Homo sapiens: one gene and its partners. The protein of the gene in region 1 purifies or fractionates together with the protein of each later gene. This does not show direct contact. Each region holds a gene or a part of one and is shown in the gene's direction. Other genes may lie near its edges. The genes, in order: DAGLA, SLC35A5 and SEZ6L2.

Region 1 (3,651 bases):
CCTGTCCTCAGAAAGCTGGGTGGCTCTCGGGGCCTTATTCTCACCATCCCTCCAGCGACTGATCAGAGAGGACTAGAGCACCTCATGCCCCCTTCCCATCTTTGTCAGCTGCATGTGCCTGGCATTCTTGCCTGCATCCCTGGGAGTCCCAGCTGTGGCAGAGAACTCTTCAAAATGAGCACCAGGCTCCATTACTCACTGGTGGTGTGGGGACAGCTCTTAGAGCCTTTGTTTCCTAAACTGTAACAGGTGGTATCTGTCCTGCCTGCCCATAGGGTGTTTCAGAACCCAGGGTATCACTGGCAGGCAGGGCTCTCTGGTGCTCTGCAGACAGGAGGGGTGCTGGCATTTGTATTAGGTGCCTTAGTGTTGCAGAGAGAGCAGAGTCCCTAGACCTCATGAGGGCCCAGCCAGGCCCCTGCCTGGAAGAACCAGGTGCCTGTGGGGCAGAGAGAGGCAGGCCTGCAGCCCAGGGTGTTGGGAGGAGGCCAGAGTCCAGTGCCCCAGCCTGTCCATAACAGCCTGGCCAGAGGGAGAAGGGCTGCCCATCTGCCTCGGGCCCAGGCCTCTCCCCTGGCAGCAGTTCTCAGCCCATGCAGAGCACAGCGAGCCAGGCCTGCTTCTGGCTTGGCCCTAGCCCTGCCCTGGATGAGCCCCAGGGCCCTCCCATCCGGGGTGCTGGCCCTGCTCCCCTGACTGGTCCTCCTGGCCCACACATCACTGACTCAGAGGCAGCCCTGTCACCGGAGAAGCGAGGAGCCACTCGTTATTAAGAACCTATTATAGGCCAGACCATTTCTGCATCTTGGACCCTTGATCTCACACCAGCCTTGTGAAGTAGCTGTCACCACCTGCTCTTACAGAAGAGGAAACTGAGGCTTAGAATGGCTGAGTGACCTCCAGGCCCTTGCGGTCAGGAAGTGATACAGCAAGGGTTCAAACTCAAGCCTCCAGTCTCCAAAGGCCACACTGTTACAGCCTCATGCTCAGCTGAGGTTGGAGAGGGAACAGCTGCCGAGCACAGGAGCTCAGCCCCTAGACCCTGGCCCATCACCACTTGACCTGCAGTGTGGGGGACCATGCTCTCCCATTGTACATCGGCTTTGTCCCCCCAGCAAGCACTGTGGCTTTCTCAGCAAAGTCTCTCCCCATTGGAAAGTGTGTAATAGTCACTCAGGTGATGCTCTGAGTGAAGACAAACCTCCTAGCATCACCAGAATCCAAGCTTCTTAATAAAATCTCAGCTGTCATCCCGTGACAGCTGGCAGGCCCAGTCACGTGGGCTCCAGCGTCTGGTGCCTTAGCAGTTGGATGCTGGCTCCCTCTGGTGGCCTGAGGTGCCGCTGCACCTAGCTGGGTGCCCAGCTCCCAGGCTGCCTCATTCATTTCTGTGGGGAGGCTACTGTGTACCTGGCCCTGTTTGGGTGCTGGGGATACAGCTGTGGACCTCTCTGTGGTGCTCACTGCCCAGCGAGGAGGCGGACAGCGCATAGACAAGGCAAATAGGGCACATGGTGGAGCGGATGGGCACTTTGGACCCACATAAAGCCAGGTGCCTGGGATGGGGAGTGCTGGGGGCCTGGGGAGCCCTGGCTGTTAGATGAGGTGGCAAGAGAGACCTCACTGTGACAGGACGTTTGAACAGAGGCCCAGAGGAGCAAGGGCCAGGCCACGCTGTCTCAGGTGCTGCTGAACACGCTGGCAGCAGGTCAGAGAGACCAGAGCCAGGTGGGGTAGACAGGGCGTTGCTGTAGGGTCTTAAAAAGAAAATGATGTGGCTCAACTTATCTTAAAAGGGCCACTCTGTTGCTGAGCTGAGAGCGTAGGGGCAAGTGCAAGGAGGCCAGTCGAGGCCACCATGACAGTCCCAGGCAGAGCTGCCAGGGCAGGGGTAGGGGAGGTGAGGGAGTGCCTGGAGTCCAGCTCTGAGTCTGAAGGGAAGCCGAGTACGTGTACTGACCGAGTGGCATGGCCGTGGGGGTGAGGGCTGAGGAGCCACAGACAGTTGCAAGCCAGAGGCCAAGCCACCGAGGGGCCTTGGGAAGACCTCAGGAGGGTTGGGGTACACAAGCAGGGAAGGGGTTTGAGAGCTGGCAGGGTGTCAGGTGTCCGAGAGAGGTGCTGGCTAGGCCATTGGATGGAAGCATCTGGGTGTTGGGGCAGGCCTGGGGTGGATTCCTGAGCATGCAGATGGTGTCTAAAACACAAGACTGCATGAGTGCATGGAGGAGCCAGTGCCCCCAGAGGGACCCCAGGGCTTCAGTGTTGGGTGCATCGCTGAGTAGGCCCTGCCCGGAGGGGAGATCCCAGAGAGGAGGGGGCCCCAGCCAGGTGGGGAGAGGGAAGGGCCCACAGGGTCAGGTGCCGCCAAGAGCTCAGTTAAGAGGAAGGCTAAGAGTGGCCAGTGGATTTGGTGACGTGGGGGTCACTAGGACTTAGCAAGGGCAATTTGGTAGAGGCAGTGGGGCTGAATGCCCAACTGGAACTGGTTCCAGGGACAGTGGCAGGAGACATTTGTTCCCTCGGGGACTCCCTGGCCCTGAACTCTCTTGTCACCCCACCCTAGGTGTTGCCTGTGTCCTGCGAGGCCGCGGTTCGCCCCTGGAGTCACCATCGAGGAAGACAACTGCTGTGGCTGTAATGCCATTGCCATCCGGCGCCACTTCCTGGACGAGAACATGACTGCGGTGGACATCGTCTATACCTCCTGCCATGATGCGGTGAGGCCGGGCAGGGCTGGGGCCTGGTGTCAGGAGCAGGCAGCTGAGGGCCTAGGGTGCTGAGGCTATCCTTCCAGGCCGGCAGGAGCCCTTGCTTGGCTGGTGCTGGCTGGCTGCAGCTTCCAGGCATCCCTAGCTGGGCAGACCAGAGGTGGCCCCCTTCTCTTCCCCAGACCCTGGCTTGCCTGTACCACCTCTGGGGCTGGGAAAGCAGACATCAACCCCACACCCAGTGTTTGGGTTGCCGAGCCCTAGCCCTTTAGGGAAAGGAATTGAGGGCAGAAGCAGGGAGGGGCAGCCATCACCTGGACTCAGGGGCAAGTGGTGGCACTCAGGGCTGCCAGAGCCAGCAAGGAGCGGGGAGGGCAGGGCAGGCCTGTGGCTGGGATCGGGAGGAGATCCCCAGTGACCCTGGGAGCCCGTCAGCCTTTCTGGCGGCAGAGGCTCCGTGGCTGGTGGAGCCAGAGTTCCTGGCCAGGAAGGAGACCTGCCTAGGTCACTTTCCCTGAGTGTGGCCCCACCAGGGCCGCTCAGGCTCACGAGCTGCCCGCCTCCTAGGTCTATGAAACGCCCTTCTACGTGGCGGTGGACCATGACAAGAAGAAAGTGGTGATCAGTATCCGGGGGACCCTGTCCCCCAAGGTACGCTGCCCATGGCTCCCAGCCCCCGGGGGTGCCTGCCTCCCTCTTCCTGTCCTCTTTAGCCGCCCCCTCACCTGTCTCCTCTCTCCCCAAGGATGCCCTGACTGACCTGACGGGTGATGCTGAGCGCCTCCCCGTGGAGGGGCACCACGGCACCTGGCTGGGCCACAAGGTAACCCACGTCATGGACCCCAGGGCCCCTGGGCTTCTTTCCTGCCCTGCCAGTGTGCAGAGGCGTGTATGGTTGGGGGTTCCTCCCTGCTCGCTGGGCTCACTGGAAGAGATTGGT
Region 2 (3,651 bases), on another chromosome or scaffold:
GAGAAAGCATATAATAGTGTGCACAGGTATGCTGCTATCTAGGCTAGTCTGTGCATTTAGCAGTTTCAGAGCATGAAGCTTTATATGCACACAACTTCCTATATGTGCATCCTGGAAACTTAGAATTATACTTAGGAGGTGTGATGATGCAGAAGGAAGACATACAAAACCATGGATCCGATCCCTTCTTTAGTGTTTAAGTACATGACCTTAGGGAAATCTGTTAGGTTAACTGTTTCCTCCCTTAGAGCGGAAATGCCTAAGTGTATGGTAGGTGCTCAATAAATGCTCCAATGATATAAAAATTCTCACTTCTGGTTCCCACCTATTGCTTTACACTTCTGCATTTTTTATGTTCCTCTTTTTTTCTCGGTGTTCCCCTTCTTTGCCTAACTAACTGATCTTCAAACATCAAGATTTTGTTCCCCCAAGAGGCCTCCTGACAACGCCAATGAAAGTGAGATATTCCTCTTTGTCAACATTGTACATTCTTGTTGCCTTTGCATAGAGACTCTTCCCTCTGCCTGGATATATCACCACCTCCTTTTTCACATGATAAACTTCAATTAATTTTTCATCTTCTAGCTCAAGTGTCATTTCCTCTTTGAAGCAATACCTGACTATTTACAGATTGTAGTGTTCCTCAGTTTACTCCACTTGTCCCATTAATCACTTTTCACACATACTGAAATCATTTAGTTTCATTGTTTTCTCACTGTTAAAGCATAAATTCCTTGAACATGGAGATAAGTCATCTTTATCGCCCCAGGTTGCCTGGCACGTAGTAGCTGCTTATTAAACATCTGTTGAATAGAATGAATCAGCAAAATGGAATAATAATAGTACATGTCCTTTATTTCTCACAAGTTTGTTGCTAAGGAAAATAAACAAAGGATTGTTAGGACTTTGTAAACTGAAATACTGCCCAAAATAACATTTTTCTTTGGCTTGTCAGCCAGCAGTTTGCTGTTTAATGCTCTACGATTAGGACATGGATCTAGAGCTAACCTTCTCCTTTAAATCTTTTTTGGGTTATGGACACCTTTAAAGATTTGACAAAGCTTTGCAGGATCTCCTGCATAGGGGGAAATTCATCTGTACACAACATTTCTGAAGCTCATCTACATTCTTTCTGGTTCTGGGAAACCAGGTTGAGAATCTCTGCTGTAACTTTATAGTACAATAAAAGTTACTGTGCCAGAGGTCCAGGATACCTCTAGAGGTAGAAAGGAGGCCATGTTAAACTTGTAGGTTAAAAGGAAACCTACACAGAAGGGAAATGACTTGAGCAGCCTTAGGGGATAGGTGTTATAAAAATGAATTAAAACATTAAATTTGAGAGACAGGCACCAACAGTTTTTCTCTGAACTTGAGTGGTAGGAAATGCTAGCAAAAACTGGGTCCAGTTTATTCAACCAAATACTCAAGTGTCTGAGTTTTCAGTAGAAACTATTGATATGGGGGGAAAACAGTAGTAAAATCTTTTTTTTCATCTTTGAACAGGAGGCGTCTAAACTGGATCCAGTGGGCTTCCCTCCTGACTTTATTTTTGTCTATTGTGGCCTTGACTGCCGGGACTAAAACTTTACAGCACAACTTGGCAGGACGTGGATTTCATCACGATGCCTTTTTCAGCCCTTCCAATTCCTGCCTTCTTTTCAGAAGTGAGTGTCCCAGAAAAGACAATTGTACAGCAAAGGAATGGACTTTTCCTGAAGCTAAATGGAACACCACAGCCAGAGTTTTCAGTCACATCCGTCTTGGCATGGGCCATGTTCTTATTATAGTCCAGTGTTTTATTTCTTCAATGGCTAATATCTATAATGAAAAGATACTGAAGGAAGGGAACCAGCTCACTGAAAGCATCTTCATACAGAACAGCAAACTCTATTTCTTTGGCATTCTGTTTAATGGGCTGACTCTGGGCCTTCAGAGGAGTAACCGTGATCAGATTAAGAACTGTGGATTTTTTTATGGCCACAGTGCATTTTCAGTAGCCCTTATTTTTGTAACTGCATTCCAGGGCCTTTCAGTGGCTTTCATTCTGAAGTTCCTGGATAACATGTTCCATGTCTTGATGGCCCAGGTTACCACTGTCATTATCACAACAGTGTCTGTCCTGGTCTTTGACTTCAGGCCCTCCCTGGAATTTTTCTTGGAAGCCCCATCAGTCCTTCTCTCTATATTTATTTATAATGCCAGCAAGCCTCAAGTTCCGGAATACGCACCTAGGCAAGAAAGGATCCGAGATCTAAGTGGCAATCTTTGGGAGCGTTCCAGTGGGGTAAGTTTGTGAGGGTGTTCCTTTTTGCTTGTTCTTCCCAAATTTAAAGCATAGTTAATTCAAGGAAAAAAATAAAATCAGTACTGATTTGTCAAAGAATGTATTGGATCTCTGACTTTTAAAACCGAATCAACAAACATTCCTTTTACTCCTGATGTTTGCAAGGGCTCATAATCAATGCTGTCAGGTGTAGAGAAAAAGTATAAGTCAATCTCAAGGACCTTATGTGTTACTTCATAGAATACTATAGAATTATACACCTGGAAGATACCTCACAGGTTGTCTTGTCCTGTCTGCATAGTTTTACAAGAAACAGGCAAAATGGTTTACAGATAATAAATGAAAGAACTGGTACACCTATGTCTGACTCCAAGTCCCTTTCTCTTTCTTTTCCACCATAGTTAGGGAAAATAAGCTCATTTGTGAGAGAAGTTGGCCTTTCGTATTAGTAAGTCCTGTTGAATAGAAAGCCTGGCTCCTCAGTCCTCCCTGTGGTTATTCATAAGCCAGTATGCCAGAAGGGCAGGGTTTGTTTATTTCACTAGAAAGGTAGTTTTCAAGAGGATCCTTGCAAGGCGAGTAGGAGGAAAATATTTTCTAGAAAAATGCTTATGCAATTATTCCGAATATCTCCCAGTTGCTTGCAATTGTTTTGGAAGGCTCTGTCAATCATTTTATTGGCAAGTTAATGATCTCTTTGAAGATTCAATTAAGGAGTTAAATATACGTTTAAATAAGTGAAATAGACATCTAGCTTTAGATTTACAATTTTCTTGAGCACACAAAATATGAAATATTTTATACAGTGAACATTTCACTCTTTGGGAAAAATAATCTATTGCTTAATAACATTCATAGCAGAGCTTCCCTGGGTGTAATGCCTCTGTCATGATTCAACAGATTCTAAAGATGAAAAAATTAGGATCTTGAGTTTCGGATACCCTGCTCTTAGCCAGAGTGTATATCCAGAAGTCTTGTATTCTTTTCCAACAGCCGATAATGCCATTTGCTCTAATTTTTAAGCAAAAGAAAATCTATATAGGTAACAAGGCCTATGAAGACCTATTTCTGTAACCTTTAATCATTTTTCTGCAAGACCAGCAGGTGGTGCTCCTCACTTTGCTCATGTTAGCTTTGAAATTTTGAGTACTGAGTACACTTCACTTTTTTATCCTCTCATACTTCTATAGTTAACTTTCCAAGAACATAAGTATTTATTTAATTTGACCAGATTATATCTATAGCTTAATGAGGTAAGACCAGTGATTTGTTAGTAAGGTTTTCCCTTTAAAAATGCTACATTTCCAGTTTTGTTCTAATTACTGCTTTCATGTTTCCTTTTAGGATGGAGAAGAACTAGAAAGACT
Region 3 (2,597 bases), on another chromosome or scaffold:
CCAATGGGCGACCCCACAGAGCTCCCGGTTCTCCTCCTGTGGCCTCGTGTCCTCACGGGTGTGTCCAGAAGCCCTGGGTCGTGTGAGGTCATGGGATTGGCTCAGGGGTGTAGTAGAGGGGGCCTTGGCTTGGAAGTCCCTTGCTCTGAATAGGCCTCAGTTTCCCTATCGCTGACAAGTTCTAGTTTGGCTCAGACTGTCCAGGAACCCTGACTTTTTAGGGGTCTGGAGAAAGAGGACAAAGGCCCTGTGCTGGTCACTCCTCTCTCTTCCCCACAAAGGGAGAAAGTTGAGGTTGAGCAGAGGGCAGAGAGAACCAGGCTGTCCAGCCCAGCCCCACCGGGCTCCCGGCCCCTCCCAGCCTCCTCCCCTCCCTGGCTCAGACCCCATCCCCTCCCCCTCCTCTCCCTGCAGTTGCCTATGAGGAGCTCCTGGACAACCGAAAACTGGAAGGTCAGTGAGAGCACAGGTGGAGACCCAGGCTGGCCAGGTTGGGAGGGCAAGGCAGAGGCTGGGGCAGGAGGCCAGGCCTTGGAGGGATGAAGCCCAGGGTTTGAGGCCCAGGGCAGGAGGCTGGGAGAGCCCAGGACCGGGCCCAGCCACAGCTCACCGGCCTCTCCTCCTCCTGTAGTGACCCAGACCACAGATCCATCACGGCAGCTGGAAGGGGGGAACCTGGCCCTGGCCATCCTGCTGCCTCTAGGCTTGGTCATTGTCCTCGGCAGTGGCGTTTACATCTACTACACCAAGTAAGTAGCCTGCTTGGGGACTGCCGGCCAGGGCAGACGTCTTGCGAGCCTGGCACTGGAGCCTGGGTCAGGGGAGCTCAGGGGCTTACCTGTTGATAAGCTCCTCTGTCCTCTCCCTTTCCCAGGCTTCAGGGAAAGTCCCTTTTCGGCTTCTCGGGCTCCCACTCCTACAGCCCCATCACCGTGGAGTCGGACTTCAGCAACCCGCTGTATGAAGCTGGGGTAAGCACCTTGCCTGCCCCTGAAGAGCCACCACTTGGCTCTCCCAGGACTCCATAACCTTCTCGCAAGGTCTCTGGAATCTCTGTCTTGGGAATTTCAAACTCAGCTGCCCCCAGAGGCCATGTCAATGAGCATAGCAAGCCATGTGTATACAATAGGGAGTGGTGAGGACTGTGGCTAAGTGGAGGACTTGTGCCCCATCTCAAGAATACGGCTCTACCCCATAGTCGAAACTGAGGCACAATTGGCAGATCTTCCAATTATTCAAGACAAGCCAGAAATTCAGATTTTTGTGTCATTTTACGACACCGTAGGATGAACCAAACACATTCACTGGCCCCCCAGCCCCTAGAGGTCAATGTTACTTTAAAACCCAGGATCGTTGCCCCTCCTCCCATTCGGCTGCCTCTTCCACCCCTATCAGACTCCAACAACTGACCTGATCTCTCTGTCTTCAGGATACGCGGGAGTATGAAGTTTCCATCTGAACCCCAAGACTACAGCTGCAGGACCCAGGACGCCCCTCCCCTCCTCATTCGGGCAGAGGGAAATACGGGACCCGGTCTCTGCCTCCTGGCTGCCCTCCTCCCTGGCTGTGTAAATAGTCTCCCTATCCCACGAGGGGGCTTTGATGGCCCTGGAGATCCTACAGTAAATAAACCAGCATCCTGCCGCCCAAAGCCGCCTCTTCTCAGTTGCCAAACGAGGGGCCTGCCCCCCGCCCTACCGGCTTTTGGATTCTGGGAGGGGAACTCTGCCTCCCTGCAAATCTTGCAGCCCCTCCTGCCCAGGGCACCCCTCAAGGACTGCCCCCGATAGCTCTACTGTTCCCTTGGCCACGAAGGTGCCCCCCTCCCAGATGCCCTGGCCCTAGGCCTGACTCCGGCCAGGAGGGTCAGAAGAAGGACAAAGGGGAGAGCTGGGACAAGGCCTTGCCCCCTTCCTGCCATCTCCCCAACCCACAGTCTCTCCACCTTTGCTTCTGAATTCTTGTTTTTGAGCAATAAACAGAAAATCGCCACTTGTAATTGGGCCGGTGGAGTGTGGGGAGGTGGTCACCGAGCACTGGACCACTTCTCTGGAGAGAGGGCTGGGGAAAGGGGAACAATTTGAAAAAAAAAAAAAAAAAGGAAATGCGAAAGTGGGCAGAGGGCAGTGTCCGGGGGCCTGGCCTGAGGTAAAAAAGCCTGGCTTTAGGCTCAGCCTCTGTGAAGGCCTCCCTGCGACCAGCCTCACTCCAGGACGCAGTGACCTCTCCACCAGGCCTTCCTTGACATTGTGGGCCTCTTCCAGATGGGAGAGAACTGACAGGAGCCACCCGTCTTCTCTCGCTGCTGGGCAGGAGGCAAACAGCTTTCAATTTCTTTCTTTTTAGAGACAGGGCCTGGCTCTGCCGGCCAGGCTGGAATGCAGTGGTGCCATCACAGCTCACTGCAACCTCAAACTCCTAGGTTCAAGGGATCCTCCCGCCTCAGCATCCTGAGTAGCTGGGACTACAGGTGCAAGCCATGGTGCCTGCCTAATTTTTAAATTTTTTGTAGAAATGAGATCTTGTTACGCTGCCCGGGCTGGTCTCGAACACCTGGCCTCAAGCAATCCTCCTTCCTCAACTTCCCAAAGTTCTGG

Evidence for each region.
Region 2: the proteins of DAGLA (region 1) and SLC35A5 fractionate together in Homo sapiens (co-fractionation; one large-scale study listed by BioGRID). This does not show direct contact.
Region 3: the proteins of DAGLA (region 1) and SEZ6L2 fractionate together in Homo sapiens (co-fractionation; one large-scale study listed by BioGRID). This does not show direct contact.

What each region holds. Positions count from the first base shown.
Region 1 is NC_000011.10:61,732,283-61,735,933, forward strand, and holds part of DAGLA (diacylglycerol lipase-alpha), read left to right. Parts: intron 1-2,566; coding exon 2,567-2,720; intron 2,721-3,278; coding exon 3,279-3,362; intron 3,363-3,456; coding exon 3,457-3,534; intron 3,535-3,651. UniProt on the Homo sapiens protein: Serine hydrolase that hydrolyzes arachidonic acid-esterified diacylglycerols (DAGs) to produce the principal endocannabinoid, 2-arachidonoylglycerol (2-AG).
Region 2 is NC_000003.12:112,579,043-112,582,693, forward strand, and holds part of SLC35A5 (UDP-sugar transporter protein SLC35A5), read left to right. Parts: intron 1-1,503; coding exon 1,504-2,284; intron 2,285-3,628; coding exon 3,629-3,651. UniProt on the Homo sapiens protein: Probable UDP-sugar:UMP transmembrane antiporter involved in UDP-alpha-D-glucuronate/UDP-GlcA, UDP-GlcNAc/UDP-N-acetyl-alpha-D-glucosamine and UDP-N-acetyl-alpha-D-galactosamine/UDP-GalNAc transport from the cytosol to the lumen of the Golgi.
Region 3 is NC_000016.10:29,870,561-29,873,157, reverse strand, and holds the end of SEZ6L2 (seizure 6-like protein 2 isoform 5 precursor), read left to right. Parts: intron 1-414; coding exon 415-453; intron 454-631; coding exon 632-749; intron 750-874; coding exon 875-971; intron 972-1,429; coding exon 1,430-1,459; 3' UTR 1,460-1,999; downstream 2,000-2,597. UniProt on the Homo sapiens protein: May contribute to specialized endoplasmic reticulum functions in neurons.